Homo sapiens: one gene and its partners. The protein of the gene in region 3 purifies or fractionates together with the protein of the main gene of each other region. This does not show direct contact. Each region holds a gene or a part of one and is shown on either strand. Other genes may lie near its edges.

Region 1 (7,358 bases), on a different chromosome or scaffold from region 3:
ACGCTACCATTGTCTAATGATGAAAGCCTTTTACAGCAAACAAGCCAGGCAAAACTGTCACTACTTCTTAGAATGTATGGGCTATAACAAGCAGAGAAAATGGAGAAGCCCAATTCAGCTGGCAGCTCTGAGTAAGTTATCCTTTTTTTGTAGAAATACTGGGCTAGCCCTCCAGAAGACCACCTAGCTCGTACTTGGAGGCTTCTAGAAGAAAAAAATGAAGTCTCAATTAGCCAAATGTGATTAATTCAGGCCATCCAGGGGTTAGGGTACATAATGAAAAGTTCAAGTTATGGATTTTGAGGCAGAAATGGAAGTACTTATTTGAATGATAATGCAATACCAAACTAACCTAAACAGTCCAAGCAGGCTTTTTTCCTTTATCAAAGGAAGTTATTGTAACAAACAGCAAATACCTGCACATCAATAAGAATTCTTTAGCTTCTGATTAAAATGTTACTTTTGAGATTTCATTCCTTTCTTGGTTCTATTTTACCAATGTTCCAAGCCCTATTAATCTCACCAAATGTAAACTTTAATCCTAGCTAGAATTATTGCAAGTTTCTGAATTATAGTCATTCTATTCAAAGGAGCTTTTATTGTACCTTGAAACCGAACCACACTATTCCAATTCTTTTCTACACCTTCCATTTACCCTGTCCCCTGCCTCTGTGCCATTTGCGGTCATAATCCCAGAATTTCTTATATAGTAAAACTGAAGACACAGTGGCCTTTGTTGGGAAGAAATAGCCAATCAATACCATCACAGGAGCTTAGAGGACAGGGAAATATGGAAAAAATACATACACTAGAACAAAGAAAAACCATCTCTGTGACTTATCACATGCACTTACAATGAAAAAAATACTAACAAAACAGGAATTTTCAAGTGGGACCTCACAGCTGCTGAGCAAATTAAGTGTTTTTTGTTTAGTGCTAAGCCATCCATGAAAGCCAAAACTGATGTTGTCTATGAGGTGACCTTTGATTGCAGGTAGCCAAGACTGATGTGTTGGTGTTGCAGGAAAAAAAAAATCAAAGCAGTTAATTGCCTAGAGATTCATAACTGGGACACGAGACAGGAGAGACATAATTTCTGAGATGGGAAGAACTCGAGATCAGCACCGTGGACAGCGCCCCGACCTTTCACGTTTTGCCAACCGGCGAACGCTTTCTTAAGGAGGAAATGTCAGCTGGTGGACAAGGGAATCGTGTGTGTGTGTGTGTGTGTGTGTGTGTGTGCTGGTGGACAAGGGAATCGTGTGTGTGTGTGTGTTGGGGAGGTGGGTAGAGCAGGGTGGTTACTACTAGCTCAAGCATCGCTCAGCTTGTTGGCTCCCAATCTCTACTTTTTGGAGCGCGAAAGTCAAGAAAATGGGATAGGACTCTTCCCAGTTCAGGATCGCATTCTTCCTTCAGCCCTGAAGCAGACCATACTCCATAAATAACTTCTAGGGCGCACAGAAAGCTTTTCAAAGTCAACCAAACAAGCCAGATAGCCGAGACAGCACCGCCCACGTAACCTGCCCCGTTGGGCTCAGTCTTACTTTGGGTGGGGCACTGTTCTCCGGGTCGCCGGTGTGTGTAGGCCCGCTTGCTGACAGACAGGCAGAGTTGGGTTTTCGAACCTCAAATAAATTTAAGGGCTTCTTTGTTTGAAGGGCTGGGGCAGGGACATAAATGAGGGGCGTTCCCTAAAATTAACATTAAAGACTCCAGGGTTTTTTGTTAACCAGCGCCTCCAGCCGCGGCTCTTCTCTCCTCTCTTTTGCCCTCCCCTTAAGTCCTGGGGCCCAGTTTTACCAGAGGAAGAGGGTACGCGCGGAAGAGGGCAGGGCACCCCTCCCCACGCCCAGCCCCGGCCCTTACCTGGTAGCCAGCTACCTCGGCACTGTGCCGCTCCTCCAGCTCCAGGATCTGCCTCTCCAAGGACTCGTTGGCCCCGCGCAGGCCCTCGATCTCGATGGTGCGCGCCTGCAGCTGGCGCCGATACTCGTGGATCTCCTCGCGGCTGGCCCGGATGGCCTCGGTGCTGCGCGCCGCCTGCTCGTTCAGGTTGGCAAACTTGGACTTGTACCATTCTTCCGCGGACTGCAGGTTCTTAGCGGCCAGGGACTCATACTGGGCGCGGATCTCCCTCAGAGCCGAGGTCAGGTCTGGTTTAGCCACAGTCACGTCCACCTCGGCCGCGGCCTGCGACGACGCCTGCAGCGTGGCCAGCAGCTCGGCTACCTCCTCGTCGTGCACCTGGCGTACGAAGGCCAGCTCGTCCAGCAGCGACTCCACCTTCTTCTCCAGGTCCAGGCGGGCCAGCGTGGCGCCGTCCACGTCGCGCTGCTGCGCCTTCAGGGCGCGCTCGGCGCCTTCGCGTCCGCGGCTCTCCTCCTCGCAGCGCGCCCGCAGCCGCTGCACCTCCTCCGCCAGCCCGTCGCGCTCCAGCAGGGCCTGCGAGCGAGCCGAGCTGGCCTCCTCCAGCTGCGCGCGCAGGTCGCGCAGCTCGCGCTGGAAGAGCTCGCCGACGCGCGACGGCTCAGCGTGGCGCTGTCGCAGCGCGGCCAGCTCGGCCTCCAACGCGCGGTTCTGCGTCTCCAGCTGATGCACCTTCTCGATGAACACGGCGAAGCGGTCGTTGAGGCCCTGCAGCTGCTCCTTCTCGTTGGTGCGGATGATCTTGTACTCGTTGGTGCGCGCCGCCGCCTGGCTCAGGTCCAGCCCGTCGGACGCCGGCGGCCGGCGATAGGCCAGGCCGAGGCCGAGCGACGAGGCCGAGGAGCAGGCGGCCGAGGAGGCCACATTGCTGCGGGACAGCGACTGCGAGCGGAAGCCGCCCGCGCCGCCGGCCCCAGAGAGGCGGGCGGACAGGCGAGAGCCATCCCCGAACACCTTGCGGTAGGAGGAGGAGGAGCACAGGTAGTGCTCCGAGCCGAAGCTCATGGTGCCGGGATCGGGGCCGGACGTGCGGCTTCAACGCGAGCTACAGAAGAAAGGAGAGGTGCGGCAGGCAGGGCGCGGCGGGGCGGTGCGCCCGGCTTTTAAGGCGCCGGGGCTGGGGCGGCGCGCTGGGGGCGGAGCTCCTGCTCAGAGTCTGGCCGGGAGAGGGAAGGGGGGCATCCAGGAGTGGGGGCGGGGAGGCGCAGTGACTACCGCAGCTGCGCGCGCGACGACCTGGGGCGCCGGGACAGGGCCATCTGCATCGGAGTCGCCCCTTTCCGCAGCGCTTCTCCCCAAGAATCGACTGCTTCGGAAGTGACTCGAGCGGAGGGGTGCCTAAACGACTGAGGTTTCCCATCCGGAAACCACACAGCTCTGTCGCATCCCTTGACCCTATCCCCTCTTCTTTAACCGACTGGGAGGTTAGGGGTTTCTGGGAGGTGTCCCCTACACCCACCCTCATCCTGAGGTGAGGCGCACAGAAAGCCTTCCCGAGGGCGAGGTCGTGTTTTTCCAGTTACAGTGAGGACCTGCAGAGCGAGCCCTTGTCCCCTTCCTCAGGGTCCCCAAGGAGAAAGGTGGGAGATGCTACGTCAGAAAGCATCTCTCCAGCTGCCCCTCTGCAGCTCCTGGGGAGGCTCCGGGCGGAAAGATGTTCAGCAAGTGCCTCTCCCAGAAGAGAGGGGAGATCAGTAAAGAAAGTGACCCCGAGCTGCGGAGAGTGGGGAGAAGCGGCGGTACAGAGGGGAAAAGAGGCCAGACTTGGAGAAGCAGGAGGCGCTGGGAATTGCTGGGGCTCATCGTTAGGGCACTAAAGCATGGCACAGGCCAGGACCACAAGCTGCTGGAAAGGGGGCTGCAGACTTTTGTGTTTAGAGCATTATATTTTAAAATATTTCGAAAGGAGCATTTTTAAACCAGGAGATTTCACCTGTAAAGAAATTGGATTTCTGGCTTCTTCTGAAAATGGGAAGAGCTGGGATGCCCACAGTGGCAGAGGTGAGTTGCCCTTGCCATTTGTATAAGAAGTGTGCTCTCCTGTTCACTACAGTCCCTGCCATTCTCCACTGAATTACGCCCCCCTTCTTAATTCATTTACTTTACCTCTCTGACCCTGTGGGCATTTGAGATTTCAGTTTGTGTAAATCCAGCAGGGCAGGTTCTCAACTGGCTTCAGAGAGCCACTCCCTGTGCAGATCTCTTTTTGGAGAAAAGAGATCCCTGCAAAAAGATTAAACTCCAGGAGTGGGGGAGAGTGCTGGTGACTGAGCCGGCCTCTTCTGCCACATGGTAGGGTTGGTGGGGCAGGGGGTGAGAATCAAAGAATGGAATCTGAAAAGATGAAGGCTGGGAGGGGTCAGTGTGGCGTCTGTAATATGTACCCACTTGCAAGCTTCTAATATCATTCAGGATGTGGATATGGCTTTGGAGAGGGAGTAGGAAGACCTTTTTAGTTATATCCCAGAATTCCAGACTGAGGGCCTTTTATTGATATTGGAATCTTCAAGGACGTAGTTCTAGGATAAGTTTTACTTCATGGGGAAAGGGGAATATGCTTGGGACAGGCCACTAAAGGAAGGGTGAAAAGGGATCTTATGGGACTTTGGAGCATATCTCTTGGCTTTGTGCTTGATGTCATGGAAGATGGTCAGGCCCTGCCACAGCCTGCCCCTCTGGTTCCTCATCACAGACCAAAGCCTTGAGTTGGAGGGACTCAATTCTGAGGTCTTTGGGCTTAGAAAGACCTGGTAAGGTGAACAATAAAAGATTGCTAACACTGCTGAGTAATGATTGTCTGCCAGTACTTGTGCTGGCACTTTTGCATAGGTTTACCTCTGAACCATGCTTCAAGGTGGCCCTCACCTCCATCTTATAGATAAGGCACCGAGGTGCGGGTGCAGCACAAGGTCACCAGCAAGCAAAGACAAGCATACATTCTCTCTTCACTACATAATTCTGCTTAGTGCAGTGAGACTCTTTTTTTTTTTTTTTTTTTTCTGAGACGGAGTTGGCCGGGTGCAGTGGCTCACACCTGTAATCCCAGCACTTTGGGAGGCCGAGATGGGCGGATCACTTGAGGTGAGGAGTTTGAGACCAGCCTGACCAACATGGTGAAACCCTGTCTCTATTAAAAATATAAAAATGAGCCGGGTGTGGTGGCACGGGCCTGTAATCCCAGCTCCTCAGGAGGCTGAGGCAGGAGAATTGCTTGAACTCGGGAGGTGGAGGTTTTAGTGAGCCGAAATCATGCGACTGCACTCCAGCCTGGGTGACAGAGCGAGACTCCATCAAAAAAAAAAAAAAAAAGAGAGACGGAGTTGCGCTCTTCTTGCCCAGGCTGGAGGGCAGTAGCGTGATCTTGGCTCACCACAGGTCAGCGGGTAGGTGTCTGCCACAACATCTGGCTATTTTTTGTATTTTTTTTTTTTTTTGAGATGGAGTCTCGCTCTGTCGCCCAAGCCGGAATGCAGTGGCACAATCTCGGCTCACTGCAACCTTTGCCTCCTGGGTTCAAGCAGTTCTCTGCCTCAGGCTCCCGAGTAGCTGGGATTACAGGTGCCCACCACCACACCTGGCTAATTTTTGTATTTTTAGTAGAGATGGGGTTTCACCATGTTGGCCAGGCTGGTCTTGAACTCCTGACCTCGTGATCCACCTGCTTTGGCCTCCCGAAGTGCTGGGATTACAGGCATGAGCCACCACGCCTGGCCAATTTTTTGTATTTTTACTAGAGACGGGGTTTCATCATGTTTTCCAGGCTCGTCTTGAACTTGACCTCAGGTGATCCACCTGCCTTGGCCTCCCAAAGTGCAGGGATTACAGACGTCAGCCACTGCGCCCAGCCTGCAGTGAGACTCTTGAAGTCTTGTTAATTTCCATGCAGCACGGCCGGCTGCCGTGGCTCCTGCCTGTAATCTCAGCACTTTGGGAGGCCGAGGCGAGTGGATCACCTGAGGTCAGGAGTTCGAGACCAGCCTGACCAACATGGAGAAACCTGTCTCTACTAAAAATACAAAATTAGCTGAGGGTGGTGGCACATGCCTGTAATCCCAGCTACTCTGGAGGCCAAGGCAGAAGAATCACTTGAACCCGGGAGGCGGAGGTTGTGGTGAGCCAAGATCGCACCATTGCACTCCAGCCTGGGCAACAAGGGTGAAACTGTCTCAAAAAAACAAAATATTTCTGTGCAGCCAGAATAGGACTAAGTGGGCTTTGGAAGAGTTTTGGCTGATAACAAATCAGCATGCTGGTTTGTAATTGAAAGAACATTGGACTCAGAGTCAGAGGCAATGGGTTTGAATTGTGGCTTCTGCCACTTACTAAGCATGTAGGGATAACAACACCTACCTCCCAAGAGTCATGAAAGCTTGAGCTGATGCATGTGAAGGTGCTTTTAAGCTGTAGGTATAAAGAGTTATGGTCATCATCATCCTCTTTCAAATGAAAGGAACGGTTTCACATCCATCAGCAACAGGATATGAATTGGGTTTAGGGAGGGGATTGCAGGAAATAGTCCATCACACCCTTGCACAGGTCTCCAGGCTACTACTACTGAAAGTCAGCAAAATGTCCTGGTTGGAGTTCCGCTTTCTTTCCCTTCCCATCCTCCAGTGGAATCAGTACCCCAAAGGCAAAACACACATAGAACAGAAGAAAGTGAGGCAAAAGGCCTAAATATTTCAGCAGAGTGACAGTTGCCCTGGCAAAGATGCATTTTGCATTTTCTCAACAGCTTATCTGAGATTCCAAACTGGTATTCCCCTGTGGGACTTATGCCTCCTCTTTCTTGGCATCCCACCCCACAGGCCCAGATGTTTGGCTTTAATAATTTTAGCACAAAGCTATCCTGCGAAGGAGTGATCTTGGCTGAGCCTCAATCCATAACTCCTTCCAGCTGGCCAGGCCTCCTGAGGGAGTTCCCTGTGTGTGCCAGGGCTGTGTCTTCATCTTCCTCTGATGGCACACTCAGACACCACAGACACGTTGTCAGTCATCCCCAGTTCTCCCTAAGGCCACATTCTCCAGTCTCTCTGTGGCATTTGGCAGTGCTGACCACTCTCCTTGGTTTTAATGACTCAGTTCTTAGCCTTCCGCTCTTCCTTTGTAAACTCTTTTTTTAGGCCAGGCACCGTGACTCATGCCTGTAATCCCAGCACTTTGGGAGGCTGAGGTGGGAGGAGCACTTGAGCCCAGGAGTTTGAGACTAGCCTGGGCAACATGGCAAAACCCCATCTCTACCAAAAATACAAAAATTAGCTGAGTGTGGTGGTACATGCCTGTGGTCCCAGCTTCTCAGGAGGCTGAGGCAGGAGAATTGCTTGAACCCGGGAGGCAGAGGTTGCAGTGAGCAGAGATCGCGCCATTGCACTCCAGCCTGGGCAATAAGAGCGAAACTCTGTCTCAAAATAATAATAATAATAATAATA
Region 2 (7,084 bases), on a different chromosome or scaffold from region 3:
CGACGCAGACGTCCACAGCAGCATCCACACGAGGACGACGCAGACGTCCACAGCAGCATCCACACGAGGACGACGCAGACGTGCACAGCAGCATCCACACGAGACTACGCAGACGTCCACAGCAGCATCCACACGAGACTACGCAGACGTTCACAGCAGCATCCACACGAGACTACGCAGATGTCCACAGCAGCATCCACACGAGGACGACGCAGACGTCCACAGCAGCATCCACACGAGACTACGCAGACGTCCACAGCAGCATCCACACGAGGACGACGCAGACGTCCACAGCAGCATCCACACGAGGACGACGCAGACGTCCACAGCAGCATCCACACGAGGACTACGCAAATGTCCACAGCAGCAGGATTCACAGAAGCCCCAAACTGGAAGCAACCCAGATGTCCATGGACAGAAGAGCAGACAAACAAAATGTGGTCCCTGCATGCAATGGAATGTGCTTCAGCCATGAAATGGAATGAAGTCCTGATACAGCCTGCCGTGAGGATGGCGCGTGAAAACAGCCGAAGGAAGCCAGGAGACATGCATGACATCTGGAGCGTCTGGAGTGCAGGTGAGTGGCTGCCAGGGCTGGGGAGGAGCACGGGGAAGGGGTCGGACTGATGGGTGCGAGAGGACTTCTTGGGGTGACGGAGAGATTCTCAAAATGGATCATTGCACAAACTTGATCTGCTGGAGAGCAAACACCACCGCAGCACACACATAACCAGGGAGTCTGGTGGTTTGTAAATTACGCCCCTGTAGAGCTGCACCCATCTCACCACTGTTGGATGCGGTTCACCACTGGGTCTGCCCTCTTCTAGATGTTTCTTACTGCCTCCTGAGGGCTCCAGGGACAGCCCCTGGCCTGGGGGACTGGGGGACCCTCAACAGTGAATGCTCACACGGTGCCTGGGGGCCCAGGGACCCCTCAACAGTGAGTGTTCACACGGGGCCTGGGGGCCCCTCAACAGTGAGTGTTCACACGGGGCCTGTCCAGCGCTCACCATGTTTGTGGGAGCCCACGTCCACCGCCCACTCCCGCAGCCTCTGAACACGACAGTCGCACACCGGGCTAGGTCTGCTTTTTATTGGCCACGCATCCAGCCGCCAGCCTCAGGGCACACACCTGGCAGGGGGCAGGCTCGGGTAGGCTGCCCTCGCTGGGTGGGCAGTGAGGGGGCAGCGGCTGCTGGGTGTCACCCTGCAGCCCCTCAGGTGGACCTGTATTGTCCCCAGGGCCTGCCCACGCTGGGCAGCTGGCACTGGGAGGGGTTTTCTGTTGATGTGATGGCCAAGTTTCAGCTGCAGGGCAGAGGCCTGGCAGTGGCAGCAAAGGCAGACCGCCCCCCACTCCAACTTCAGGGGCTGGACATGCTGGAACGGGGGCCAGACCCCATGGGAGGGGACCCTGGCCTGCCATGGCACTGCCTGCCAGCTTACCCCTGCCCAGGGCCCCCAACTCAGCCACCTCCAAGCAGTAAAGACTTGCAAAGCATTGCATTTTGATTAAACCTTGCTGGGCTGAAGGGCAGGCAGAGCTGTGGTGGACACTGGCAGGACGCAGCACCCCCCGACTGGCCCTTGGCAGGCTGCACCGGGCGCATGCGGGTGTGGGCCAGGGTTGCCTTTAGGAAGCAGGTGGGAGGCTGGCACGTGCAGGCGGTCCAGGAGGGCACCAGGCCTGGCAGGGCACTGGTGCCTGTCGGGTTCCCAGCCACAACACCCCAAGAAGGCTCCAGGAGGGCCCCGGCTGGGTAAGGCACGGAGTTTTGGTTTCCGGGGCCCAGTCCCAGCCTGGCCCCCAGAAGAGCCTCTCTTGGCAGAATGGCAGCATGTCCTGTGGCCTGGGCTCTCTCACTTGGCCTTGGGCCTGGGCCTGAGGCCTGTAAGAGAGAGAAAAAATGACATTATTAGGAGCAGTTTTGCTGGGTACAATATCAGGTGCCCGCTTCTGGGTGCCCAGGTCCCTGAACCCCTCATCGCCACTGTCCAGCAGGTTGTGCCATGCATCGCAGGTCCACTCTGACCCCAGGCTCTTTCTCTGGAGCAGCACAACTTATCTAGGTGGAAGGTGCCGGGCTGGCCTGGCCAGGCTGGGTTTTGGCAAGGCGTGGCAGCCTGAGCCTGTCTCCTCTCTGCTGAGATAGGGAATCTCTGTGGCCTGTCCCCCACCCCCTGTCTGAGACCCAGGCTGCACTCTGTCCTTACTCATTCATCCCCACTGCCACCCCCTGCAGCCCTCCATTGCTTCCACGTCGGGCCCTGGGCCCCACACGAGGACCCCAGCAGCGCTTTCTCCAGTGGGCTGCTGAGGGCGCTCAGCCCTGCCCCAACAGCTCCCGCCACCCAGACGGCCCCCACACATGGCCCCACAGGCCTCCTGCCCCCAACGCCCTCTTCGCTTTCTGGTCCAGGGGCCCTCGATGGCCCTTGTCTGAGTGTCACCCCCACTGCCACCACAGTGCCAGGTGGTGTCCCAGCTCCCCAGTGGGATGGCCCAAGCAGGGTTTGAGAACCACTACTCTAAACAGACAGCAAGAAAACAAAAACTATCCAAAACAATCACTCAAAGGAGGGTCTCAGCACCATTCCCCACTCAGGGAACCTGGAGAAATGGCCAAGACCAAGGCCCGTGCAGGGATGGGGGGATCAGCAAGTCTGGGGTGAGCTAGGAACAGGGGCTTGTGCCAAAGATGGGAAGCGCTCAGGGCCCCCGCTGGTCCCCATCAAATGCACGGCAGTGGCAGTGAAGGATTACTGCACGTTCAAAACTCACGTGATGGAAAAAGGGAGGGGAGGGGGGAACGCTCGGACGAGGGGCGGCGAACACAGAACCGCGCTGCAGCGGTTGGTTCCACAGGTCACCACCGGTGCTTATTAACCAGACAGCGTGGTGTTCGTGCAGTGGAGGTTCAGAAACCACCCCCGCAGCCGTGGTCAGCGCTGCTGCCACAAACGTCCCCACCCAGCTGGGGAGGACATGGCATCCCTTGGGGTAGAACTCCTGCCCCAAAACTCAACCTGGACCTACTTGGGGGCGCAATCAGGCAAACCCAAAGTGAAGTTATCTTCCAGAACGTCAATGTCATACAAGACAAAAAGGGGCAGGAATGTTCTAGAACAAAAGAGACTGAAGTGATATGATAACCAAACACAGCATGTGACTCTGGATACAATCTTGTTTGCAAAAACAACAAAGCAACAACTAGAGAAGGAATTATTGGGGCAAGTGGCACATCTGCACTGGGACCGAGTATTAGAAGCATGTGGACGTGAAGCGCCCCACAGCGGACCCTGCCCGGGGGGGACTGGGAGGACGGCAGCGCACCCTGCCCGGGGGGGCGGACTAGGAGGACGGCAGCGCGCCCTGCCCGGGGGGGGGACTGGGAGGACGGCAGCGCACCCTGCCCGGTGGGGGCGGACTGGGAGGACGGCAGCGCACCCTGCCCGGGGGGGACTGAGGAAGACGGCTGTGCTCTCAGGTGTCTGTGGGCGAGTTTAGGGCTCCAGTGCCATGATGTTTATAAGAAACTCTCAGATGCCTCAGTTGGAGGGGGGCAATGTAGCAAAATGGTCACAATTTTGGTATTTTTGGCAAATGGTTGTAATTTCGGGGAGAAGGTGTTGTTCATTCTGATCTATGCAGTTTCCTGTGGTGTTGAAGATTTTCTAAATAAAAAGGTGGGGGCTGGGCACGGTGGCTCACGCCTGTAATCCCAGCACTTTGGGAGGCCGAGGCGGGTGGATCACCTGAGGTCAGGAGTTCGAGACCAGCCTGACCAACATGGTGAAACCCTGTCTCTGCTAAAAATACAAAAAATTAGCCGCGCGTGGTGGCGTGTGCCTGTGGTCCCAGCTACTCGGGAGGCTGAGGCAGGAGAATCACTTGAACCTGGAAGGTGGAGGTTGCTGTGAGCTCAGATCGCACCACTGCACTCCAGCCTGGGCAACAGAGTGAGACTCCGTCTTGAAAAAAAATAAAAAATAAAAAGTTGGGGAGAGAAGAGGACTTCTTCCTCTTGCCCTCAGCCACGTGCGTGGCAGGAGCTGGGGCGGGTGGAGGCTAAGCACGTGTAGCAGGTTCAGGAGGGAACCAGGTGGAGCGTGGAGCTGGCACTGGACACGTCCATCTTTCACTGGACCATTGTCAGATGTGGCCGCCCGCCCCAGACCTGCATGCTCCACTGTTCCTCACACTCAGGGCCAGCAAGTCCAAGTTCCAGCCTCTAAGGGAGATGCCAGCACCTTTCTAAAAAGTACACGTGGGTGCTTCACACCAGAGAGCCACACTCGGAAGATGACCCTGGAAGCAAAAGCTGGAACCCAGGGTGAAGGCCGTGCCCCAACAGCGAGGACAAGCTGTCCGGAGAAGCTTCTCCGGGGTCACGACTGCTCTTGCCTCTGATGGGCACCAGCAGACCTCAGGTGTGCACCTTGAGCCTAAGCCCCAGGCCCAGCGGTCAGCATATTTGTGATGCACCGACACCGGGCTGGCTCTGAGCAAGGCTGGAGGTGCTGGAAGACGCCACGACCTGGGCTCACAGAGCTCATGATCGGCCGGGCTGGACCTTCTGGTTCTCTGCTCTAGCCCCTCCTCCACCCAGTGCAGGCTGGTCCTGTCTAGCTGGATGCATTGGCCTCTCCAGCCCTGTGGACGGACCTGGCTGATTGACCTTTGGCTGGTCGCCCCCCAGAAGACTCGGTGTGCGGGGGGTAATCTGCTTCTCCATAGACCCACCCATGGCCTCGGGGTGGGAGGACACTGTCCAACAGGAGGGGGGTTGCAGTGTACTTGTCCCTGGCAGCATCTGCCCTTGCGACTGTCCCGGTCTCCTCACAGACTTCCTGGGGACATGCCCCAGAAGGCCCCACGCCATTGACACACTTAGAGTGAAGATAGCCCTCCACCAACAGACAGAGCAGGAAAGCCACAGGGTTACTGGAACTGCAGTTAGCGCCAGGACACCAGACAGGAGCAACCTCAGCCTGTCCTGCCAGCCAGGAGGTCCCGCCCACGCCCCAGGGCCCGGATCCTGCTTGCTAAGGGAGTCCGGCTGGCCCTGCCACCTGCCCTCTCGAGGCCCGCATGCCCGGGGCCAGCACTGAGGTTGCGTCCTGCCTGCAGGAGGCACCAGTTGAGCAGGTAACCTGCGGAGAGGGAGGGGATGGGGCGGGAAGCCCACCACCAGGGCTGCGGGAGCGGCAAGGCCACACTGACGCACCACGCGGGCTGGAGAGAAGCCAGGTTAGTGTCCCGGAGGGGTGTGGGCAGCAAGCTCCAGCCCCACTGCCCTGCAGCTGCTGTTAGCCCCCACGGAGCGCCGGCTGCGTACATACCTTACTGGATCACACACAGTTTCTTTGTTTTATTATCATCAGAATCAGGGGGAACCTCTGCTTCCAAATAAAAGAAACGCACTCAACGGCTTATCACACAGAAGCAACCCTGACTCGGAGTGGGTGGGGCTGGGGGGCCCGGGACAGCCATGCCAACACCCTCTGAGGGCTGCCCGGTTCTCTGGCCACTAAGCCACATGGCAGCCACTTGCCTGGGACCTGGTGCCCGGTGTCCGCCCCCTACTCCCTAACGGAGGTGGCGTGAAGGTCGGAATTAGTAGGTTGGAGGAATAGTTGCACGGGCCGCGGCAGCCCACATAGCCGCCCTGCGGTGGACGCACTGCCGCCTCCTCTCCCGTGCCGCACCCAAGTCACCTCTCCTGGGTGCCGCTGGAACTTGCAGTGCCCAATGGGGAAGGGGAGGGACCGGCTGGGTGCCAGCGCCCTGGCGTGGGACGGTGCCCGGGGCCCCTCCCTGAGTTACCTTCCTGGCTCCTGGAGGGACGCTTCTTCCTTCGCTTCCCGGTCCCCTTTGAGGCCCGGCCCCGGGCCCTGGGGAGTGTGCCCGACCCCGAGGAGTCGGTCACCGCATCCTCGGAGAAGGACTTGTCCAGGGATGTGTCCAGTGCGGACTCTGGGGCCGTGTCCTCCTCGTCCTCGTCCTCATCCCCACCTGGGCCTGCTGCAGGGGGTCTGGCACCACGGCTGTGGACAGCGTCCTCCAGCCCCTCACTTGTGCTGTCGGCCTCGGCCTGGAGGACGCCCAGCAAGGACGTGGGATCCTTGGCATCTTGCCTTGAACTTCCGGCTGCAGGGGGCTGGTTGCTGGAGAACTTGAGGGGCTTCAGGGCCTGAGCATCTCCCAGAGTCACCGGCCAGGCCCCCTCCAAGGGCTGGGGGCACTGGGGATCCTCAGTGGTTAGGACATCGCTGGCATCCACATACCAGGAAGAACGCCTCTCCAGGGGCCGTGGACCACCCTCCTCCAACTGCTCCAGGGTGGGCTGAGGGCCGGGGGTCACGGCGTCTACAAGGTCCCAGCCCCGGGACTCGCTGGCTGTTGTAGCATCAAGGCCGGGCTCAGAGGCGGGACAGCGCGTGCTGCCCACGGGATCTCCTGCAGGGTTACTGGTGGCCACTGGATGGAGGGACACACCAGTGAAGGGCAGGCACCCTGCCCCCGAGCCAGCCCAGGTGCAGCCTCCTCCATTCCGCTGTCTACCTGAACGCCCTGCAAAACCTCCTCCCCAGAAAGCCTCCTCTGATGTCTCAGAGCAGGACCCGGCCTCAGCGTCCTTGGTCTGTCTACACTGTGGCAGGGTGGGGGACACTGGGCCATGCCATTCCCAGCACCCTGAGGCAGCCACCCCAGGAATGGGGTCCTCCCACCAGGGCCTTGCCGCCTGCCTTTCCTGCCACCTCTAGCACCCTCTGAGCCCAAGGGCATCGGTCAGTGGGCCTGGCCTCATCTCTCTGGAGCCCAGCGGGCTGGACTGCTGCTTCAGCACTGAGGGCAGGGCCTGCGGTTACAGTGGAGGAGCTGGAGTGAGTGGAGGGAGGGATGAGGGCTGAGCGGCCACCACCTGTCCCCTCGGCTGTCCCCAGTCTTAGGGGCCTCCAGGGTGGCCCAGGGAGAGGAGAGGGCTTTCCAGTGAAGTCAGGAGGACTTCCTGGAGGCACAGGGTAGGGACAGTGGCAAGGGGACCATGAGGAGGCAGTGGGAGAGGGTCTTACCAGGCTC
Region 3 (7,000 bases):
GTGGGAGGATCCCTTGAGCCCAGGAGTTCAAAATCAGCCTGGGCAACATAGTGAGACCCTTTATCTACAAAAAATAAAAAAAATTTAGCTAGGTGTGGTGGTGCATGCCTGTAGTCCAGCAACATGGGAAGCTGAGGCAAGAGGATCACTTGAACCTGAGAGGTTGAGGATACAGTGAGCCATGACTGTGCCACTGCACTCTAGCCTAGGCGGGGCCGGGGAAGGAAGGGAGGCAAGAAGGAAAGGGAAGGAAAGAAGGAAGGAAGGGAGGAAGGGAGGAAGGGAGGGAGGGAGGGAGGGAAAGAAAGAAAGAAGAAAAAAAAGCAATTAAATAAAGCCTTGATAGAGAATGTGGCGGGGCACAGTGGCTAACGCCTACAATGCCAGCACTTCGGGAGGCTGAGGTGGGCTGACTGCTTGAGCCCAGGAGTTTCAAGACCAGCCTGGGCAACATGATGAAACCCCATCTCTAAAAAAAAATACAAAATTAGCCAGACATGGGGTCATGCACCTATGGTCCCAGCTACATGGGAGGCTGAGGTGGGAGGATCACCTGAGCCTAGGGAGGTTGCAGCTGCAGTGAGCTGTGATTGCTCTACTGCACGCCAGCCTGGGTGACAAAGTGAGACCCTGTTTCAAAATAAATAAATAAAAAGACAGAGGGCTGGGTGCAGTGGCTCATGCCTGTAGTCCCAGCACTTTGGGAGGAGGCCGAGGCAGGTGGATCACCTGAGGTCAGGAGTTCAAGACCAGCCTGGCCAACATGGTGAAATCCCGTTTCTACTAAAAATCCAAAAATCAGCCAGGTGTGGTGGCGGGTGCCTGTAATCCCAGCTACTTGGGAGGCTGAGGCAGGAGAATCGCTTGGACCCGGGAGGCGGAGGTTGCAGTGAGCCAAGATCACATCATTGCACTCCAGCCTGGGCAACAGAGTGAGACTCTTGTCTCAAAGAGGAAAAGAAAAAAAAAGAGGACATAATTCTTCATAATACAAAATAAATTTACATAACAAAATCAATACTGAATAAAACAGACCCCAAATGTATAAAGATGAAACACAATACATCAAATGTTCTTTGTGGTCATTTATCTTGTGCTTAAGCACAAATGATAGTTTCATAAAAGATAAGTATTAACTTACTTTAGTGGGCAATGGACATTCATCTAGTAACAATGTTATAACAGCTGGTCCCAGTGGATCTTCCAGTGGAATAACTCTAATTAAAGACTGGACAACATCCAACCATCCTTCATCTAAGAGCAAATCAAGAAGATTATATGATGGAGTCACTATTTTTAAAATGTGAAAATATGTCACACGAGATCAATTCACATTAAAAGAAAGACTTTTGGTCTATAGATTTTTAGCAGCTAATATTTGGCATGGACATAATCATCAATTGCTAGTCATCGTGGTGGAGTAAAAACATCTTAAGTTACAGGAGTCTGGTGATTTGTGGGTACCTTTATTTGGAAAAAGGTTAAGCTATGGTCTTGTGCTCTCACATTAAAATAGTTTTAAGCATCTTATTTACTACATAGGAGTTAACTGAGAAAATGAAGTATACTCAGCAGTTGGCTTTGTTTTCAGAATGATACTTAGGAAACTAAGGAACAAAAAATATCTTTGGCCAGGGGCTGTGGCTCACACCTGTAATCCCAGCACTTTGGGAGGCTGAGGCAGGAGGATCCCTTGAGCCCAGGAGTACAAGACCAGGCTGGGCCAACATGGTGAAATTCTGTCTCTACAAACAACAGAAAAATTGCTGGGTATTGTGGCATGCGCCTGTGGTGCTAGCTACTTGAGAAGCTGAGGTGGGGTGATCACCTGGGCCAGGGTAGGTTGAGGCTGTAGTTGAGCTGTGATCGTGCCACTGCACTCCAGCCTGGGCAACAGAGTGAGACTCTGTCTCAAAAAAAAAAAAAAATATATATATATATATATATATATAAATAATCTCCTCTCCATTCCAGAACAGTATGGTGAAAGATCCATCAATGCCAAAAAAAAAAAAAAAAAAAAAAAGGTATAATATGCATTGCCTATTATACCTATTCAGGGAAATTTCCATACAGTAAGGGCTTTTTTCATTGTTATGTATGCTGTATTTTTGGAGTCTTTTATCTCAAAACAAAACAAAACAAAAAACAAAAGGTGGCTACTTTTCTTCATTATTATATATTCATTATAAAGTAATGAAAACAAAACTAAAAATACCTGTTTCTGCCATTTCGTGTAATGTTATCATTGAATAGGGAGGTTCCTGATCACTGGAAAAAAAAATTCAAGGCATTAAACCTGAGGAAATAATAAATGACAATTCCAAATAAGAATTCAAACTGGAGGTGTGGAGGTAAAAAGGGACAGAAGAAATGAACACAAATGTAAGGAAAGAGATAGAAGAGACAACCTGAGCTATGACCTGTAAGGATGAATGTATACCATATGTGCTCATTTCCAGTCACTGTCCACAATGACCCACAGACAAAATGGGCAGGTGGATACAGACAAAGACTACTATGTGTCCTGGGGTAAAAGCACAGGAGTAAAACTGGAGATCACAGCCTACTCTCAGCTTTACACTCAGAGGCCCAGTGCCAACTGAGACAAGCCAGGAAGGTCAACATCACCTTCATACTTACCTCAGAGAAATGCCAGGAAGAGAGACGACAATCCCGGTTGAGGACTTATGGAAGCAAGGGCCTATATACGCATCTTCATTTTGAAGTTTTCTTCTGGAAATACCACTACATGCTTAGACTTCATAAAATGGTATTACAAGAAACAAAACCAAACTTAAGGAACTACTTAACATTCTAGACATTGCTCCAAAGTGGCATTATACACCTTAATTCAGTGGTGTGATCCCAGAAATCTTTAAAAAGTCCTTCAGGGGAACTTCAATAATGAGATGTTTTCCATTAAACAATTCTAACTGCTTAAGAACTCACCACTTATTTGTTTACATATTGTGGGTCTCTGTTTTAGTGTGGAAAAAAAAAAAGCCCCAAAAACTATCATCTTAAGTCATTTAATCCAGAGAATAACCTTGTGATATGGGAATTAGTATGGTCATTTCAGGTACTCATTAGGTGCTGCCTGTTTAAACAATATAATTGACTGATGCAAGTATTTCTGAAGAATGATCTGGCAATAATAAAATTAAGTATGCATATACCCAACAGTTGTAGATAAATTTTTACACAGGTCCAAAAATCAATGCATATTTGCGCTGTTCACTGCAGTGCTGTTTGTAAGAACAAAAATTTGGCAGTAACCTAAGTGACCATCACCAGATGAAAATGTAACAAAATATAATACTTTCAGGCATACAAGGGAATACTCTGTAATAGTCAGAAGCAGTTGTAGATTTATATACAGTAACACAGATTTCGATGTTGAGAAAAGTTAAAAACAAAGAGGTTTGTATAACTATGTCACTCTCTTTTAAAATATTGCAAGGGGCCAAGCGTGGGGGCTCACATCTGCAATCCCAGCACTTAAGGAGGCTGAAGCTCGACAATCGCTTGAGTCCAGGTATTTGAGACCAGCCTGGGCAACATGGCAAGACCTGGCTCTACAAAAACTTTTTTAAAAATTAGCCAGGTGCAGTAGCACACGCCTGTAGTCCAAGCTACTTAGGAGGCTGAGGTGGGAGGATGGTTTGAGTCCAGGAGGCTGAGGCTGCAGTGAGTCATGATCACGCCACTGTACGCCAGCCTGGGTGACAAAGTGAGACCCTGTCTCTTTAAAAACAAAACAAAACAAAAAAACTCTCTCTCTCAAAGTCTATTCTGCACCCATTTTTCCAATGAGCTTAAATTAACATTGTTTGTGGTTTACTTCCTTATTTGGGAAGGATAACTTTTATTACAATTTGGTACAAGGGATTTAAAAAATTTTTTTTGATTAATTAATTTTTGAGACAGGGTCTTGCTCTATTGCCCAGGCTGGAGTGCAGTGGTGTGATCATAGCTCACTGCAGCTGGAAACTCCTGGACTCTAGCAGTACTCCGGTCTTAGAATCCTGAGTAGCTGGGATCACAGGCAAGTGCCACTGTACCTGGATAATTTTTAAATTTTTTTTGCAGAGATGGGATCTCCCTATGTTGCCTAGGCTGGTCTTGAACTCCTGGCCTCCAGCTATCTTTCTACCTCAGCCTCTCAAAAGTGTTGGAATTACAGGTATGAGCCATTGTGTCTGGCCAAAAAATTATTCTTCTCGAAGACTAACAAATGCTCCAGTATTTTATGGAAAAGTTTAATACAGCTCTAAAAATTCGTTTGTATTCACAGGTACACTCTGTTTTATGCTTAATTTTTGAGGAACTAAACGAAACTGGGTTTCTATAAATGCGATTATCAAATGTTTATATACTTAAATTTACTAGCAGGGCCTGAAGCAAAAAGAACACATAAGTAACTTTTTAAAAAATACTACCATCTACTGAGCAACTGTTAAGTACAAAGCTCCACACTGAATGCCTTATGTACATTATCTCATGATAATCCTTGTGGGAACAATATTATCCCCCCATTTACAGATGAGGAATCTGAGGCTTCAAGAAGTAACTTACCCAATGTCATGCAGTTAGTAAGGCACTGGGCCAGAACTTGAGCTAGGCCCATCATGGTTCTAAGCTTTGTGCTCTTAACTACTGAAATATACAACCTTAAGTTAAATGTTTTTTTCTACTTGGATGCCCTTTAATTTCACTGTTATTCAATCTATGATTTTGTATTTAGAGGTAGACAAAGCAGAGGAAAAGACAAAACAGGTACAGGTGTGCCTTGCAGTATCAACTGACAAGCTTCCTAAATGGATTAAAGATAGTCAAATAAGGGATAAAGGATCAAATAAAGGATAATGAAAACTCTCCTTGACCTTAGTCCTTATGTTGCCAAGAGAAGTTGCCTGTAGCCATGTTCTTGGTAAAACAACTTACCTTGAATCTGAGGTCAGTGGAATAGACAGGCATGTACCATTAACAGTGAGCCTTCATGAAACCATTTCCTATTGTAGCTAGCAACATAAACTCACTCCATATTTACTCTATTCTCTAATAAAGATCATAGCTTTATCGTGTTTTCTGCTACAGAAACATTTAGACATTTCCAGACAAAGTAGATGACAGCAAGCAAAAACATCAAATCTTATCATTTACTCTGCCATCAGCGGAGCATTAAAATATTCTCCTTTGCCCTGTGAGCACAAGGCTTGGCGAGTATGTCCTAAAGGAACTGAAGGAGTCCTAAAGTCATGGTTCCGGGCAGAACACTTTTCATTCCACTGGAGGTGACCGTGAGTCAGATACTTACTTATCTACAAGAGTCCGTATTACTGCCAGTGTGTCCAACACTAGCCCATCCACATTTTGTTTCTTTCTCCTTGGCTCATGAGGTCCTCGGCCCCTCCTTGGTGGCCGAACAGGGTCCCGTGGTTGGCTCCTTGTGTCAGCAGTGGGTACTGCACTGTTCTCGGCCTGTTGCTGTTGGGTGTCAACACTGTCATCTGTTCCACTGTCATCTCGGCAGATACAGGAATTACCCATGGTAGTAGCGGCACCTCCAGTCCCTAGGAAGTGGGCTATGTGCTCTTCGAGAGTCAACAACAGACCCTGGCCAAGGCTTCTGCTCGCTAAGAACACGGCCCAACCAAAGACGATCATTTAGGTAGTTTTCAGTTTTCCAAGTACTGTTTTCATAACCTGGAGTTGAGGAATTTGCATCCTATTTGTTTTTAACAACTGAATGCCAAAGAAAGTTGCAGAGCTTATTCCCAACATTATCAACTACAGGGGATTCTGGACATCCAATGGCAGTTCTAAAAGAAAATGAGAAAAAGGAAAATGAATAAAAGATTCTTGACCACTTAATTACTCAAATTTTCCTAGTCTGATTTTATAGATATTAGGATTCTAATGAAGAATTATCTTTGGTTATTTTTATAGGTTTCCAATACAAAGAGATAGCTTTGGATAACAGAATTCGCAATCAATCAATAATTTCTTTTTATCATTCTGTTACAAAGTTGATTGCCAAACCATATTCTTATAGACCAGAGGAGTTATCATTGATTTTTTTAAAACCACATGTATAGTTTTTCCTGTCTATATAGAAATACATTAGAAGGATGTGTGCATTTTTTTTCAAGGGCTCCTTTTATCATAAAAAAAGAGTTGTCTTTCTGTGTAAGAGGTAGGTGTTAAAAAGAGAAAAATCTTTAAAAAAATGAATTAACTCCTTTCTTTAAACCCATAGGATAATTTAACAAGTTTTAAATAAAATAATTACAGACGTTTGTTGTTAAAAAAAAGTTATGATACAAATATGATAGCACCATTTGATATCAAGGAGAATAAAAGGATAGAGTTTCCCATTGGAAGCTCACTCAAGAACTGACAGAATTCATACAAGTTGTTGCAAAGTGTTTCTGTTATGTAAGCAAGGCTTTGTTTTGGGAAAGGAAAACTGATATCACAAAAGTTGTATTTTCACAATGATCAGTTTGTTGCACATGTCTATTACAAAGTTCAGAATAAGATGCACCAATTTATCTTTGCCTGAAAATACTGACTAAGGACCTTGTGCCAGGTACCACGCTGGACTAGGAGAATAAAGATGAGTAAGGAATAGTTCCTGCCCTCCAGGAATTCATGGATGGCCATTCTCATCCCACAAAGTATGTTTATCATTAAAAACCTAATGAAAGAACCAGCTCTTCAAGAAGCTGGTAAAATCTGGTTAGATTCTGGAAGGAAGTAAAGATTTAGAAATAGGAGACTTACATGGGCTGGTAGCAAAAAGTAAAAAAACAAACAAACAAACAAAACAGGCTGACAGCTGGAGAACAGGCCACATAAGGAATAGACTATGCTAGTGTGTAGTCTCTACACAACATCTGGCTAGTTACAATTAATTCCTCATACCTTGAGCACTGACCAGGAATAATATAAACAAAATTTATAATTCAGTGGAATTAGAAGAGAAATATTACTC
Region 4 (7,443 bases), on a different chromosome or scaffold from region 3:
GAGCCCCTCTCCTCCACGTCCTCCCCAGAGCCTCACTGACCTTCCATCTCTGGGCCTTGCCTCTCCTCCTTTCCTGGATCTCATGTGGCCCCTCACCAGCCACAGAGCCCCTTCCTCAGGCCCCATCAATGGCCCCTCAGCCAACAGGACCAGTTTCCCAGAAGAGACTGCGGGCTTTGCCCAAGGCCACATAGCAAGTGAGAAGCCACCCCTCCTTGGTCTCAGCCATTTCTAGGATAACAGAAAATGTGGACAATGAAAGGCTGGGCAGGACCAAGGGCACTAGGGGCATCAGAGGAGTCTCGCCCCATGACATCCAGGCTAGAAGAGGCCTTGGAAGTCCCCCAGCCCAGCCCTCAGCCCCTAGACGAGGCTGAGGCCCAGGTCAGGTGGCAAGTCAGTGCAGCCACCCCATGCCTGCAATGCCTCCTTTCCGTGGCTGCCAAAGGACATGACCCCCTGGGTGCGGGCACACATAGAGTTGGAGCTTTGCCCCTTGGGGGAAGGGTCTGGATGCAGTTGCCCCACACGGGCCCAGCCCCTCTCCAGAGGCTGTCCCGCTCGGCAATATCATCTCTCCTGGGGGGATTTCCTGGGCACAGGACATTGCTCAGGTCTCCAGCCTATGGGGGAGCAGACGGTTTCAGGCAGGACATGTTCCGGTGTGGAAGTGACCAGCCTAGAGTCACAGAACCCAGTGGCAGCAGAGTTGCCATCACCTACACCTCTGGTCCCCTTCAGCCACGTAGTCTGCCCCAGCATGTGTGTGTGCCTCTGTGTGCCTGGGTGGACAGGGCTCGTCTCGTACCTGTACGTGGCCACCTCCAGGCTGAGGGACATCTTGAGGTGCGCCAGCTGCTGCCGACCTTCCAGGACCTGAGCGATCTGGCTCTGTAGGCCCTGTTTCTCCTGCTCCAGGGCCTCCACAGCCAGCTGCAGGGCAGGCGAGAGGCAGTCAGTGGAGGGGCTGGGGTCCCTTCTGTGAACCAACCTGCCTCCTGCCCGCTGCCGCTGCCCGGGAAGCACCTCCTGCTCCCTGGCTGACTTATCTGTGTAGCAGACCCCCGCCTCCCCTACCCTATTCCCTGCCCAGAGAGCCCCCTCTGGATCAGCCAAGATGAGCCCAGGGCCCCTGTCAGCACTCTCAGCTCTCTCCCATGGCCTGCTCCTCCTCTGAGGATGCTGATTAAATGGTAGCACATGTTGCTCAGAACACAGCTCCCACAGGAAGGGGAGGTGAGGGAGGAGACGAGATGGGTTATGGAGAGAGAAGAGGGGGAAAAAAAAGCGAAAGCAGAAGGAAAAACGATTAATCAAGATGCCTGGAGCCTGCAGGACTGGAAGGCAAACAGCCCCCGTCCCCCGTTGGTCCCATCTCCCACAACTGTCTCCTGCTCCTCACAGCAGGCTCTCACCCCCGCCCCACCCCCATTTCCCACATGTTCTGGATTCTGTCTCCTCTGAGAGGAGGGATGGGGAGGTGGCCATGGCACCTCTGTGTGGCCCAGGCAAGAAGCTGTTTTCTCAGCTGCTGGTCACATCTGTGCCCTGTGAGAAGGAGCAGCTGTTATGGGCCTCTGGAATGTGCTCCAGGGAGCCGAGAAGCCATGACATGGGAGGGGGCTGGTAGCCATTCATTCACGGCCCCTCACTCCTCCCCTCAGGAGAAGGAGGGCTGTGAGGAACTTGGTGATTCTGAGTGGCCAGGCCACCAGATTCAGCGCAGAGGCGACAGTGCTGGGTGTCCTCCTAGTAATACCAGAGCCTGGGAAGGGACCCGGAGCCCCGGTCATCATCAGAGCCAGAAGGTGCCATCCAGAGAGTGGCGGGGCTGCTGCAACGGGTCTTGGGCCTGACTGCCCACCCGGGATGTGCTTCGAGAAGCCCCACCATTCGCATCCTACACTAGACGGGCTGTAAAAGTCTAGGACTTGTGGCACCAGGTTTCTGAGAACTGGCTCCTGATTCAGCAGCCAGCTAGCCCCACTCCCTTCCCAGAAGGTCTCTGAGCTTCATAAGGGACTTTCTGGAGCTTTCTGGGACTTTCTCTCACCCAGGCCCTCAACCTCCTCACCTGGAACTTTTCAGTAGCCCGCAGCCGCTCCTGCCAGCGGCCCTCCAACCTCTGTTCCAACGCTGCCCTGCGCTCCAGGAGGCCTCCGCGCTCAGCCTGGAGCTGCTGCAGCTCCAGGCGGCCCTCGCGGGCACCCTGCACCGCCCGGCCCAGCCGCTCGCGGGCCTGGCCCAGCGACGTCTCCATGTGTGCCACGCGCTCCTGGTAGCCGCGCACTGCCCCGCGCCACGCCTCGCCCAGTCGCCTTGCCAGCTCCTCTACCTCCGGGGCCGGCGCGGGAGGCCCGCGGGGCGGCGCGGGGCAGCGGGGGGCACAGGCAGCCTGCGCGTTCAGGCCGACGCGCTCCTCCTCGTGCGCCACGCGTAGAGCCTCTAGCTCGCGCTCCAGCTCTGCCACCTGGCTACTCAGCCAGGCCCGGGCGCATTTCTCTGCCTCGACGGCGCGCCGGTTGCGGGCTACCTCCTCCGTCGTCCGCTCCCGGGCCAGCCGCAGCTGCTGGCATCGGCCTGCCACGCCCTCCAGCTCTTCAGCCAGGTTGTCGCGCGCCACCTCGGCCGCGTGCTTCTCCCGCCAGCGTTGGTCAACGAGGGCCCGCAGGGCCGCCAGCTCGTCGTCGGCATGCGCCCGCCAGGAGGTGTCCGCGGATTGTGCCCGGAGCCCCCCGAGCTCCGCGCTGAGCAGCTCATTCTGCTCCTCCAGCGCCTTGACCCGGGCCAGGTAGGCCTCCAGGCGCCGATTGAGCTCCCACATCTGAAACGACTCCTCCCCCATGCAGCCCTCCATCCTGCTCGTCTGACCCACTGAGGATGGACAGACGCGGGGCACCGGGAGAAGGGAGCGGCTCGCAGAGCTTTTAGGACGGAAGAGAAAAGAGACCGACGGGGACAATGACGGGGCGGGGCGGGGTGGGAGTAGCCTGAGCGACTGAGAGTCGGGAGTGGGAGCGAGGCTATTCATACTCCCGCCAGGCGGGCGGGAAGAGGGGCGGGACCCAGGCCTTAACCCCTTAGAGGTCAGAGAGTGGCAGCAGCCTCTGTTCCTGCTTCCCCAGGGTGCTGGAGAGTGGAACCAAAGAAGAAGCTGTACCATGGAGAATCGGATCTGATGGTGGTGGCTTTCTGAGGGAGGAGGCTGTGAAGAAGGGTCACAATCCCCGAAAAAGGCAGATAATGCACAGAACTGAGCCTGTGGGGGTGGGAGTACCAGGACGTTCCAGCCTGGGAGGGAGTGCAGTCTCAGTTACTCAACACATCCGAGAGAGGTATCACTTACTGAATTCCTCTAAGACTCAGTTTCCTCATCCATAAAATGTGAGCAATGATGGAAATCGCATGGCTGCTGAAAAAAATGGATGTGGCCAGGTTTTTGTTTTTCGTTTTTGAAATAGCAAATGCTCCTCCTCCTGAAATACTGGAGAGAGTACTACAGCATTGCAGAAAGAAGCTAGAGAGACGCTGCCTGGAAAACAAGAACAAATGTCTGATATTAGGACACACGGATACACACACACACACACACACACACACACACGCACACACGCTATTGCCTGAGTCTCCATCAGAAAAGGGAGCGACCAGGTTAAGGGCCGTCATGGGCTTAAGAACGTTTGTCCATCCTTCCTACAAGTCTTCTGTATAACTGCGAGGTTCAAACATCCGCTTTAGGAAGTTCTGTTCTTGGGGAAGGGCCCCTTCTCCCGCACCCCCTGCCAGGGAATGTTGGGTAGTGGACGCCCTCTGGCGGCTTTCAGAAGTGGAAGCAGCAGGAAGAGGCCATTCTTTTCCTTCCTAACGACTAGCCCAAGTTTATCCAGCCTTTATGATGTGCCCAGTCGTGTTCCAATATTTTACTTCCATGATCTGACTTAATCTTCAAAACAACCTTTTAAAGATTCTACAGTTTATGAAGTAGAGAGCTCACCAAGGGTGAGAGTAGTAGGGAAGGCTTTCTGGACGGAGTGCATCCTTGAGCTGGGAGGTAAAGGACAGGTGGGATTTGGGGGATTTACAGTGAAGGAGAAGTAGGGCTGGGGAGGAGATGCAGGGATAATGAGACGGAGGGGATCTTTGGGGAAGGCGTTTCTGATCAAGCTGCTAAATCCAATTTAGCTCAAGTGTTAATTGAGTACCTACTATGTGTCAGCACCAAAGAGATTGCAGGAACTCTGTCCCAGCCCTGGAAATGCTTATAGTTTGGTGATGTGAGGTCAACAGTGATGGGCACTCATAGTCTGTTGGTGGAGGTAAACATAAAAAGATGACTACAATACTTAATCAGCCTCCAAGGTGCTGGGGACAGAGCCAGGCAGCACAGAGGATGGAGAGGGTTTTCTGAGTAGAGGGTACAGCCGGGTCAATAACCAGGAAGTCATCCCTCCAATATCCCCTCCCCTTGAGGAGTCTCTCAAGGACCCCATCCCTGTCCCCAGGCCAATGGGGCTTTGGAATTCACCACCAATATGTAGAATAGAGGCCAGGGAGGGGTTAGTGACAGGACATTGACTGAGAGTCAGTGCAGGCCGGGAGGCTGAGGATCTGGGATGCCCAGGCTCCTTCAACCTTGCATTACCTCATAAATCCTGCTGTTTGGTTTGGGCTGAGGGCTCCCCAGAGTTGTGGCCAGCAGAGCTTGCTTGGAATCTCCTCCTCTCTTTCTTTTATTTTTATTTTTATCTTTGAGAGGGAGTCTTGCTCTGTTGCCCAGGCTGGAGTGCAGTGATGTGATCTCGGCTCACTGCAACCTTCGCCTCCCCGGTTCAAGTGATTCTCCTGCCTCAGCCTCCCAAGTAGCTGGGATTTCAGATGCCTGCCACCATGCCAGGCTAATTTTTGTATTTTTAGTAGAGATGGGGTTTCACCATGTTGGCCAGGCTGGTTTGAACTCCTGACTTCAGGTGATCCACCCGCCTTGGCCTCCTAAAGTGCTGGGATTACAGGCATGAGCCACTGCACCCGACCTCCTTCTTTCTTTCACTTTCTGTCTGGGAGGAGAGGGATGCTAAATGTTTGAGATCCCCTGGGATTCTTGGGGGCGGTCCCCTAAAGAGGTAGGGTGGCATTGGGCTGGGGGTTCCTCTCTGAACCCCTCACCCTCACCCAAAGGGGAGACATTTGGAACTGTGTCTCATGCAAAGATTAGCTGACTTTTGCACTTTCTAACTGAATGACATTGGACAAATCACATAACTTCTCTAAGTGAGCCTGAGTTTACCTATTTGGCAAAGCAGGTTAATACCCACCTATCCCTATAAGTTTGTTCTGATAATCAAATAAGACCAGGTATAGGGAAGTCTTTGTATAAAGCCTTTTTTGAGGACCGTCACAATGAAAGCCATTAAGCTAAAGAAAACCTCCTCTTGTGAATCACTCTTGTGAGTTTTAGGAATTATGGGGAATAGAGATTGTTAAGAATTCTGGGGAAGAGTGTGGTGTTGATTTTCCTAAAACAGGAGATGGTAGGTTCCAGCATTCACAACCTAGAGGATCTGACGTCAGTGCTTACCAGATTCTAAACAGATACCTGATATTTGAGGTACTTAGAGAAATAAGGCCCTCCCTAGAGAAACTTAGGCCCTCCCTTCATCTCCTTCCCTGGTGACTGCATTTAGTTACTGGGATGTTTGTGGGGCCATTGGCCGTACCTTTTATTGGGTCTCTGGACCCAGGACATATGAACTATGTGGTACTACAGCTGGTGGATACAAAGTCAGCCCAGCAGTCATCCCCAGAGATGGCCATGAGCAAGCTTAGTGGGTTCTGTGTGCTGCCCCGAGGGAACCTGTCCTTGGTCCTGACAATTAAAAGTTTTAATTAAAGACTTGAATGAAAACATGGAAGCCATGTTTATCAGATCTACAGACTATGCAAGAACTGAGAGTTATATTTTAGCAAAATAGAAAAAAAAAACAGATGACATTTAATAGGGATAAGTGTAAAATTCTGCTTTTGGTTTCAAAAAATCAACAGCATAAGAAGAGGAGAATAAAGACCGGCTGAAGAGTAGGGAGTGTCTAGCAAAGAAGAAAGAGCTGGGGGTTTTAGAAGACTACAAGCTTGTTAGGAAGAAACCAATACTGGGTGGCTGTCTAAAAAAGTGAAAAGGATAAAAGTGACTATAGATTCAAGGTGTCCAGATGAGCAATGGCAACACTCCCATTGCCCTCCACATCTGGAGTGTTGTACTGGACACTATATTTTAAAAGGGACCTTGATGGATTGGAGTTAATCCCAGAAGAAGATGACCAGATGGTAAGGGATCTTGGAATAATGTTTTTGTATTTTTAATTTTTAAATTTTTTAAAATTTTATTTATTTATTTTGGAGACAGTCTCGCTCCATCACCTGGGCTGGAGTGTAGTGGCGTGATCTCGGCTTACTGCAACCTCTGCCTCCCCGGTTCAAGTGATTCTCAGTCTCCCGAGTAGCTGGCACTACAGGCTTGTGCCACCATGCCCAGCTAATTTTTTGTGTTTTTTTTAGTAGAGACGGGGTTTTCACCATGTTCGCCAGGCTGATCTCGAACTCCTGGCCTCAAGTGATCTACCTGCCTCAGCCTCCCAAAGTGCTGGGATTACAGGCGTGAGCCACCACACCCGTCCCAGAGTGTTTGATAAAGACTTTCTGAATGAACTTGTGTCTAAGCTCTGAAACTAAAAATAATGGCCTCTGAGTAGCACACACACAGCCTAAAGGAAATTGCCAGCCCCCACCCTGAAGGCCTTCTCCCCACCGAAGTCTGCATTAGAGAAGGCAAGCGGAATGTGAGGAGACTGTGACCAGCAGCACTGGAGTGTGGAGTGGCCAGTCCAGGATGGCAGGCTGTGGCTTTCCCTCCTCTGCTCAGAGGGCAAGGATGATGCCCACCAAGGAGAGTGGGTGCAGCCTCCCCAAGGAAGGACTCCTCAAGGCAGGGCCTGCCAAAGGACACATTGGCATCCCGCTCCAGGCCGGCTGTCTTTTAGGGTGGAGGACTTGCTCATCCACTCTCTTAGCCTCACTGAATAAGGGACACAGAGCCTGGAGAGAGATGAATGGGGAAAGGAGAGGGGCACAGGAGGAGACAGGTGAGATTCTGTGGGCCAAGAGGACCCCACAAACGGAGCCCCCATGGTGCAGCCGGCTTGGGTGTCACCACACCCAAGGGAGCTTCACGTCTGAGGGAGGTTGACTGTAACACTAGGTAAGTGGCACCTACCCCTGTGTCTTCCTCTCTCCTACAGCGGGGAAATAAGCCTCAGAGGGGGCCACAGGGGTGGGGGTGGGTGCAAAGAGCAGAGCATTCCTCTCCCCAGTGCCAGCCTTTGGACCTGGGGCCAAGCCTTGGCTAGCAGGTAATGAAGAGTGTTTTAATGGGACAGGAGATTGAAGTTT

The links.
Region 1: the proteins of RSPRY1 (region 3) and INA purify together in Homo sapiens (affinity purification with mass spectrometry; 2 studies listed by BioGRID and IntAct, with this or other methods). This does not show direct contact.
Region 2: the proteins of RSPRY1 (region 3) and INF2 purify together in Homo sapiens (affinity purification with mass spectrometry; 2 studies listed by BioGRID and IntAct, with this or other methods). This does not show direct contact.
Region 4: the proteins of RSPRY1 (region 3) and NES purify together in Homo sapiens (affinity purification with mass spectrometry; 2 studies listed by BioGRID and IntAct, with this or other methods). This does not show direct contact.

What each region holds. Positions count from the first base shown.
Region 1 is NC_000010.11:103,272,788-103,280,145, reverse strand, and holds the start of INA (alpha-internexin), read right to left. Parts: upstream 3,009-7,358; 5' UTR 2,935-3,008; coding exon 1,870-2,934; intron 1-1,869. UniProt on the Homo sapiens protein: Class-IV neuronal intermediate filament that is able to self-assemble. It is involved in the morphogenesis of neurons.
Region 2 is NC_000014.9:104,713,600-104,720,683, reverse strand, and holds part of INF2 (inverted formin-2), read right to left. Parts: coding exon 7,078-7,084; intron 6,482-7,077; coding exon 5,828-6,481; intron 5,401-5,827; coding exon 5,345-5,400; 3' UTR 5,344-5,344; intron 3,122-5,343; coding exon of another isoform or gene 3,038-3,121; intron 1,890-3,037; coding exon of another isoform or gene 1,861-1,889; 3' UTR 1-1,860.
Region 3 is NC_000016.10:57,203,329-57,210,328, reverse strand, and holds part of RSPRY1 (RING finger and SPRY domain-containing protein 1 isoform 1 precursor), read right to left. Parts: intron 5,826-7,000; 5' UTR 5,671-5,825; coding exon 5,321-5,670; coding exon of another isoform or gene 5,317-5,320; exon of another isoform or gene 4,948-5,316; intron 2,737-4,947; coding exon of another isoform or gene 2,644-2,736; intron 2,272-2,643; coding exon 2,219-2,271; intron 1,255-2,218; coding exon 1,142-1,254; intron 1-1,141.
Region 4 is NC_000001.11:156,674,408-156,681,850, forward strand, and holds the start of NES (nestin), read right to left. Parts: upstream 3,001-7,443; 5' UTR 2,858-3,000; coding exon 2,075-2,857; intron 934-2,074; coding exon 809-933; intron 1-808. UniProt on the Homo sapiens protein: Required for brain and eye development.